3 separate regions of the Homo sapiens genome follow, and all the other regions are linked to region 3. The links come from fine-mapping of genetic effects on gene expression. A gene starts in region 3. Each other region holds a variant in brackets. All regions are shown on one strand. Distances are from middle to middle.

Evidence for each region. PIP is the estimated chance that this variant, and not a neighbour inherited with it, causes the effect. A credible set is the group of variants that fine-mapping cannot tell apart.
Region 1: its variant is the best candidate, but not a certain one, in a credible set for the expression of AK4 in subcutaneous fat (TwinsUK, PIP 0.85).
Region 2: its variant is the best candidate, but not a certain one, in a credible set for the expression of AK4 in whole blood (TOPMed, PIP 0.68).

The regions. Positions count from the first base shown.
Region 1 is chr1:65,102,534-65,105,293 of GRCh38, forward strand. No RefSeq gene overlaps it. Among named protein-coding and RNA genes, the nearest start is that of AK4, 44 kb to the right of the region's middle. The variant T/C (reference allele first, on the strand shown) is at 1,549.
Region 2 is chr1:65,054,495-65,057,254 of GRCh38, forward strand. It overlaps a transcript of JAK1 not described here. Among named protein-coding and RNA genes, the nearest start is that of MIR3671, 2.0 kb to the right of the region's middle. The variant A/G (reference allele first, on the strand shown) is at 1,449.
Region 3 is chr1:65,147,016-65,149,775 of GRCh38, forward strand. It overlaps AK4 (adenylate kinase 4), which reads left to right and starts at 1,188. Exons shown (of 5, transcript NM_013410.4): 1 at 1,188-1,537. The coding sequence starts at 1,393. RefSeq lists silencers at 355-594, 605-1,104, 1,485-1,784, 1,845-2,124 and enhancers at 1,718-2,436, 2,437-2,760.

The DNA.
Region 1 (2,760 bases), 44 kb before region 3:
TGTTTCCTGTGTCCTTGCATTGACATCTGCATATCTAGCATAATTGTCACTTCTTCTAATTTTTTGAAATTGCTTTGTAGGGGAAGATTTTTCCCTGAAGATGTGTATATGTTGTTGGTTAGATAGGATCATTGGTTGGCCTTGATTTGGGGTGCATGCAATAGCATGTGGGCTATGTGATTTCTTTTTTTTTTTTCTTTTGAGATGGAATCTCACTCTGTCACCCAGGCTGGAGTACAGTGGTGCGATCTTGGCTCACTGCAACCTCCGCCTCCCAGGGGTTCAAGCAACTCTCCTGTCTCAGCCTCCTGAGTAGCTGGAACTACAGGCGCATGCCACTATGCCCAGCTAATTTTTGTATTTTTAGTAGAGACGAGGTTTCACCGTATGGGTTGGACTGGTCTCGAACTCCTGACCTCAGGTGATCCACCCACCTTGGCCTCCCAAAGTGCTGGGATTACAGGTGTGAGCCACCGCACCCAGCCTGGCTGTGTTTCTTCAGCTGTAAATGGCATCAGTGGCATCCATGCTTTTTTGGTGGCTTCAGGTTTGGTTATTACTGGAGTCTGTGGTTAGGTTTTGCTGGAACTAGGGTGCCAAGTGGGCGGGCCAGTGTTTGAGCCCCAGTGGCGGTAGTGGTGGGCCAAGCATGCCTGTTTGTGGGCCTCAGGGGACCTATGTTGGCACCAACGTTAGTGGGTCCTGGAGTGCTGATTCTTAGCCTTCTAGATGGCTTGCTTAAATGCTGGTTGTGGCAACAGTGTGTTGGGCGTATGTGCAAGTTATCAGGCCCCTTGGCAGCTGGTGTGATGTGGGCCATGGCAGTAGCAGTGGTAGAACAAACCCACTGGAGTCCAGGAGGTCCATGGTGGTGTTGGTAGTGGCTGTGACAGGTTGTGCAGGCTAGTCCCTCTGGTGATACATGCAGTTGGGTAATAGCTGTGGTGGTACATGCTGTTGGGTGATAGCTGTGATATCTGGTCCCTGGTGATACATCCAGTTGGGTGATAGCTGTGGTGGTATTGGCAGGTTGGGTTGACCCAACCTCTGGATAGCACACTTGAGTACTGGTGGAAGGAGACCAGGCTGGTAGACATGTCCTCAGTCCCCCTTGGTAGTGCATTCAGGTGCTGGCTGCAATAGGAAGGGGCAGCGTGGCTCAGATGTGGGCAATGGTGACCACACTGTGGGCCTGCCACCATTGAAGGTGGAGCCTGTCTCTGCTGGAGCAGCCAAGGCAGGTAACTGTGGGCAGTGTAATTTGCTCATGCCTTGGTCCCACAGCATTCTGCCACAGCAGCAATGGGAATTTTCCTTGGGGTACATGGGACCGCCTAGCCTCCCCTCTCCCACCTTAGCCCAGTGATGACAGCGACAGCCCAGACCCTAGGGCAGGATGCAGACCTTTGAGAGCTTGGTTCTCAGAATAGCACCAAGCTGCAGCTGCTTAGGACATGGATGCCTGTGGGACTTTGTGTGTGTTCCCTCTCTGGAGCAATGCCTCTGTGCCTTTTTTTTTTTTTTTTGAGTCAGAGTTTTGCTCTTTTG[T/C]CCAGGATGGAATGCAGTGGCATAATCTCAGCTCACTGCAACCTCTGTCTCCCAGGTTCAAGCAATTCTCCTGTCTCAGCCTCCCAAGTAGCTGGGATTACAGGCACCCACCACCGTGCCTGGCTAATTTTTGTATTTTTAGTAGAGACGGGGTTTCACCATGTTGGCCAGGCTGTTCTTGAACTCCTGACCTCAGGTGATCCACCCACCTTGACCTCCCAAAGTGTTAGGATTACAGGTGTAAGCCACCACGCCCGGCCTCTGTGCAGTCTTTAGGCAGCTCCCTATGATAGTCTCAAGGCCCATGTGGGTTGGTTCCCCTATAGCTAAGACTATAAAAGGCTGTGGTGGGAATGTGGAGCCTTGGGGCTCTTTCTTACCCTTTTCCCATATCAAGGGGCTTTTCCTGGCTCCCAGCTGATCCGAGCCAAACAAACTGTCTTGCTTCCATCTCCTAACTTGCTTTCAGTGCTTCTCATCACTTCTCTGTTGAATCTCCGTATTCTCTCTCAGATCATCTAGTTGAATTCTATTTATTTATTTTAGAGATGGGGTCTCATTGTGTCACCCAGGCTGGCCTCAAATTCCTGGACTCAAGTGATTCTCCCACCTCAGCCTCCCAAGTAGCTAGGACTACAAGTATGCACCACCATGCCTGGCTTACTTTTTATTTGTTTTCTTTAGCTAGCATTTATATAGTGCCTATTATAGTCCAGATGCTATGGTAAAAAGTATACAAGTATTAGCTCATGTAATCCTGTGAAATAAGTATAGTTATCCCTGTTTTACAGATGAGAAAACAGGCACAGAAAGTGCCTTTCTTAAAGGCACACAACTAGTACTGGTGGAGCTGAGATTCCACTCAGGCTGCATGGCTCTAGAGTCAGTGTTCTAAGCCACTTGTGGCTTGAAAAATAGAACCTATTTGTGCAAGACATAACCTTTATTCAGCCTGAACCCAATGCTAAATGCCTACATAGACTTGTGGACTTTTTGCAATAATGCTAATGGAGCCAAGGGGTGCAAGTTGGAGACTGGCAGACTAGAGGACTTTTAATCTCTGTTTGACTCTAAATTTCATAATCCCAATAGAATTTTTGTAAAGGAGGTGGGAGTTAAGGCTCTCTCAACTTCAGCTCATGTAACCAGGACAAACCAGCTGAACTTGGGGTCCTTTCTCAGAAATGAGCATAAGAGGCACTCACCCTTGTG
Region 2 (2,760 bases), 93 kb before region 3:
ATTTTAAATTACCTGAGGATTCACCAATCCCAGACCGTTCCCTTCTTATGAGTTCTTCCATAGGTTGTCAGAAATTCCTTTTCTGTTTAAAAAAACTCCAAAGAATTTCAGGAGTGGTAGCATAACTCCAAAGACGTGGGCAGTTGAGGCAACTGGAACAGGAAGAGGACCAGTGAGTTGCCCAATCTCACCAGAAAAGACATAAAGCCAGCAAGAGATGCCACATCAGGTGACTTCTTGTCCACGCCTTTTTCTCATTGTTTTTAATATTCATTGCTACTATATTGAGTTTTCTTTACATTTTACACAATTCTAAAGCTATGCTATGTTGGAAACCCTGGAAACATGTGTAAAGGACTTCAGATTAGAGAACTTGAAATGCATAAAGACATGGCAATTACATTTTAATTGCTTACTTGAAACAGCAGTTATCTTCACACGGAAAACTAAGGGAGAGCAGAGAAATCAACTAAATCCTGTTTTTGGCTTCAAGAGGGTTATTATCCTGAATCTCTTTTATTGTGGTAAAATACACATAAAATTTTCCATTTTTAGGTGTACATTGTGTCATTAAGCACATTCATGTTGTTGTGCAACTGCCATCATCCATCTCCAGAATTTTTTCATCTTCCCCAAATACAACTCCATTAAACACTAACTCTCCATTCCCCCCTCTCCCCCAGCTCCTGGCAACCATCAGTTCCTGGCTGTATGAATTTAACGACTCTAGGAGCCTCATGTGAGTGGAATCATAACAGTATACACCCTTTTATGTCTGGCTTATTTCACTTAGCATGGTATCTTCAAGGTTCATCCATGTTGTAGCATATGTCAGAATTTCCTTCCTTTTAAGGCTGAATCATATTCCAATGTAGGTATACACTACATTTCATTTATCTACTTATCCATCAATGGACACTTGGGTTGCTCCTTTTAGTTATTGTGAATCATGTTGCTATAAACATGGGTATACAATATCTGTCAGAGTGCCGCCTTTCACATCTTTTGGGTATGTATCCAGAAGTGGAAATGCTGGATTATACGGTATTCCTAGGTTTAATTGCAATCTTACCATCTCACATACTTCACCTAAACTGAAAAATGTAACGAATATACCAACCAAACACACACTGTGTTTTAAGCAAGGCAGTGGAAAAACCCCATTGGATCTGTCTTGCATCACTTCTCTCTTAACCTGCTGGAACACCTTACGTCTATGAAATGCCTTGAAGATGCCAAAGACCTCCAGGTCCAGGCAAGCTTCTGGAGCTCCTGCTGCAGACTAAGCCTCAGCCTTCTTGTTTAGAGGAAAGGGGACCCAGCATGACTCTGTCCGTAGTGCAGGGTGACTGCAAATGACACCCAACACTCAGTTCTTCAACACCCCACAGGCCTGGTTGTAGATTTTGAGGTCAAGGTTGGGTAAGTATAAAACCCAATGAATTTTT[A/G]TAAAACTAGTAACGGGGAAAACAGGAAGATCAGGGAAGGTGGTGAAATCTTCACCAAGGCCAATGATTGCACAACACATAACTTCTTGAAGCACTTTTTTCCACCTGCTCAAACACTAAACATAAGGAGTGTTTCAAATTACTTGAGGATTCACCAATCCCTAACTTTCCCTTCCTAAAAGTTCTTCCAGAGTTTCTGTCAGAAATTCCTTTTAAGAAAACTCCAAAGAATTTCAGGAGTGGTAGCATAATAACTGGGGAGACCCCTCTCTCTAATTAATCAAAAACGTAGTGTAGCTTATATAGCTTAGAGAAATTGTGGATCTATGAGGACATGTGAAGGTACTGGGCTATAATGTGGTCAATGTGTCTGAAAAAATAACAGTTCTGGGCCAACCAAGTGTGGCTCAAGGGATCACTACTAAGAATGGTTCCTCTTTGGGTAGAGCAGAGGGAAGAGACACTAAAGGGAACTGCAATCACCAGCAAAGGAACACAGTGACCATCAATGTCTGAGGACTGGCACAATGAAGGATAAGAAAGAACCTCTCTGTACGAGGCCTACTCCCTTTCAGTTCCCTTTCTTCCCCATTGTGTCCCAGTGGAGGACCTGATAATACACCTGACCCATATCTAAGACATGCAGTTGGCAGGGCTGATAGTAGGTAAGGTTCACAGTATGTTAAAAAGTCACACGAGGCCGGGTGCAGTGGCTCAATGCCTGTAATCTCAGCACTTTGGGAGGCTGAGGGTAGGAGAATCACTTGAGGACAGGAGTTTGAAACCAGTTTGGGCAACATGGTGAAACACCATCTCTACCAAAAATACAAAATTACATGGGCATGGTGGTGCACACCTGTAATCCCAGCTACTCGGCAGGCTGAGGCATAAGGATCACTTGACCCCGGGAGGCAGAGGTTGCAGTGAACCAAGACTGAGCTACTGCACTCCAGCCTGACCGCAGACTGAGACTCTTTCTTTAAAAAAAAAAAAAAAAAAAAAAGTCACAAATGGTTTTTCTCTCCCTGGCCCCTCTTCTCTCTGTGGTAGGTAGGTTCAAATTACAGCCTAACCTCAGCCATCTCTGTTCTCTTTGCTCAAGCATATGGGTCACTGCTTTGGGTTCCTACACCAGTCAGACATCCACAGGCTCCCAGATACAGACATGAGCCTAGGATGAGGTAATATACCCGATTAGGCTCTGAGCCTAAAACACGTTCCATGAAATTACCTGAGCCTTCCTTGCACAGTACTGTGATCTAAGATCTAACACATAATCAAGTCATGCACTTTGTTTCTTATTTGCTATTGT
Region 3 (2,760 bases):
ATCATTTACCAAGAAGGTCCTGAACACAGGTGAGGGACATCCCCTTCTTCCCTGTTCCCTAAGGCGCCTAGACTTTGGAGTCAGTCAGTCTTGGGTTCCAGCCTCCCGCTAGGACGCAATTTCTTGAGAGCAGGATTCGATCTGTTGTTCACGGCTAGATCCTAAGCGCCTAGAATAGTTTCTGGCACACAGTAGGCACTCAATAAACATTTGCAGAATGAATCAATGAATGAATGGTCACGCTCCATTCCTCGGCTGTAAACACAATGAAATCACCTAGCCGCAAACTTGGCGCACAGTAGGCGCTCAACAAGTTGTATTTTTCCCTTCCCTTGCAGTAGACCGCGGTCCCCAGGCGACCGCGAAAGAAAAAAAGGGGTTTCTCTACCTCGCGTGGTCTGCACCTCGCTTCGCCCCCGCAGCCCTCGCTGGGTCGCAGGGAGCACGTGGGCCAGGCAGGCTGGGTGGGAGTGGAGTGGAGTGGAGGGGAGGGGGCGGCGGCCAGCGGCTCGCGCGGAGCCGGTCTCCCGGGCTTACGTAAGGCGCGAGTCCCGCGCGGCCGGCCGGGGCTCCGCGACTGGGCGGGCGGAGGCGGCGCCGCCCTGCAGGATCCGGGCTGGAAGCCTCTCGGAGTGCTGCCTCCAGCCAAGGTGTGTGTTTATTTGATTGCTTTTGGTGGCGAGGCGCGGGGCTCGGGCTCGTCGCGCGCCCCATGGCCGGGGAGCGCATCCGCCAACCCCGGGCGGAGGTGGGCCCCTCCGAGCGCGCGCGGGCGGCGGGCAGCGGCGGCAGCTGAGACTCCGGGGGATGTGACAGCCGCCGGGGAGGGGACGAGACGCAGACCACACGTTGCCCACGTGCGAGGACCGGGCAGGGGCTCAGCCCCTAGGCCGCCCGGTGCGTGGGGCGGCGGGGGCTGGCTTTGAGTCACCCCCGCTTGTGCCAGCTTCCCCGGCTCGGCGGAGACTGGCTTGGGGATGCCTGGCCGCCCGGCCCCCTTCTCGGACGCGGCGTGGGGAGCGAGCTGGAGTTAAGGATGAAGGTGGGACTGGCCGGGCCGACCTCTGACCCCTGGAGGCCGAGTCGGCAGGGCGGGGCACGGCGCGCTTCAGCAGCTTTGCGTGGGGGCGAGGAGGTGGAGGAGGGCGAGGAGGTGGAGAAGGGCGGGGAGGTGTAGCGTGGCGCTCAGTCCGCCTGCTACTCGGTCCCGGCGCTGGGCTGAGGGGAGGGGTTGTCTTAAAAGTCTCTCCTTCCCCCTGTAGGGGCGGCCGGCGAGTCCCAGTGAGAGCGGAGGGTGCCAGAGGTAGGGGGCCGAGAAACAAAGTTCCCGGGGCTTCCTCCGGGGCCGCGGTCGGGGCTGCGCGTTTGACCGCCCCCCTCCTCGCGAAGGCAATGGCTTCCAAACTCCTGCGCGCGGTCATCCTCGGGCCGCCCGGCTCGGGCAAGGGCACCGTGTGCCAGAGGATCGCCCAGAACTTTGGTCTCCAGCATCTCTCCAGCGGCCACTTCTTGCGGGAGAACATCAAGGCCAGCACCGGTGAGGGGCTGCGGGGACGAGGGCCGGGGGCGAGCCGCGTTGGGCTGGGGTGAGGCCCTGGAGGGACTGGGGCTCCCGGATCACGGCGCCCTTCCCCCGCCCGCGTGTGGTCGTGCAGGCTCGTACGTGCCGGGGCGCATGCAGCTGGCGGCCGCGCGGCTTAACCGCGCCTGGGGAGGAGGCCGAGGCTCCAGGGGCGGCCGGTGGGAGGTGCCCACGGCTCCTCTCCACCGCTCCTCCTGTCGCGAGGAATAGCCCGAGCCACCCGGCCGAGGGAACGAGAACTAGGCAGGGAAAACCCGGAGCTTCCGTCTCACGCTGCCCTCCTTAAGGCAGAGCCGTCCCCGTACCCCTTAGCCCTGGCCCCCTCCCCCGAGTCCCTAGAGAGCCGCGCGCCCCCTCCCGCGGGAGCCCAGAGGCGGAGCGCCGCCCACCTGTGGCAGTCGGGCGGGGCCGCGCGCCGGGGAACCTGTGGCGCCGGGGGGCTCGCAGCCTCGCGCCTCTCCAGCCCCTCCACGCAGCCTCGGGCCTCGGGGCAGAGCCCTGGGTGGCTTTGAAAGGCCTGTCTGTTCGTTGTCGCCTTCTAAGGTAAACTCTCCCCAGCAACTCCCCCCCCTCCCGAAGCCGCCGGGCCTGGCCGTCAGGAGACTCGGAGGAGACTCGTTCTGATAAATTACATTTTGTAATGCAGCTTTCCTGGAAATGGCTTCTTGAGCTGCCTCCCTTGGCATGAGATGCCTCCTTTGGCTGGCGTGGTGAACTTGGGGATATATAGATCGCCTGATTTCTTAGTCTGACGGGGTTGAGTGCGTCCCTTTCCCCCTCTCCTCCCACTCCACGTTCACACCAGTTCCGAAAGAATTGGCGTTAAAAGGCGAGAGGTAGCGGTTGTGCTGCTGCGAGGCTCTTAACCCTTCTGGGATGGAGATGCTGGTAATTAGCAACTCCTTTATGAAAAGTTGTTCTTCCCAGCAGGGGTCCTTTACTGTCGATGTACTTCTCAAGGATGTCCGGGCTGGTTATTGCCCATCATGGACTAATTATCCGGAGATCTGCATTTCAGAAGCACAGACTGGCTTGAAAAGGAAGGTGGAGGACAGTACCAGAAAACAAAAGGAAAGCTTAAAAGCAAGGAATTAAGAAGTATCTCCAGAATTGTATTCCTTATCTCTTAAGCAGATTGAAAAAGCGGACTTTTACAGGAAACTCTTCCCCCACCCCCA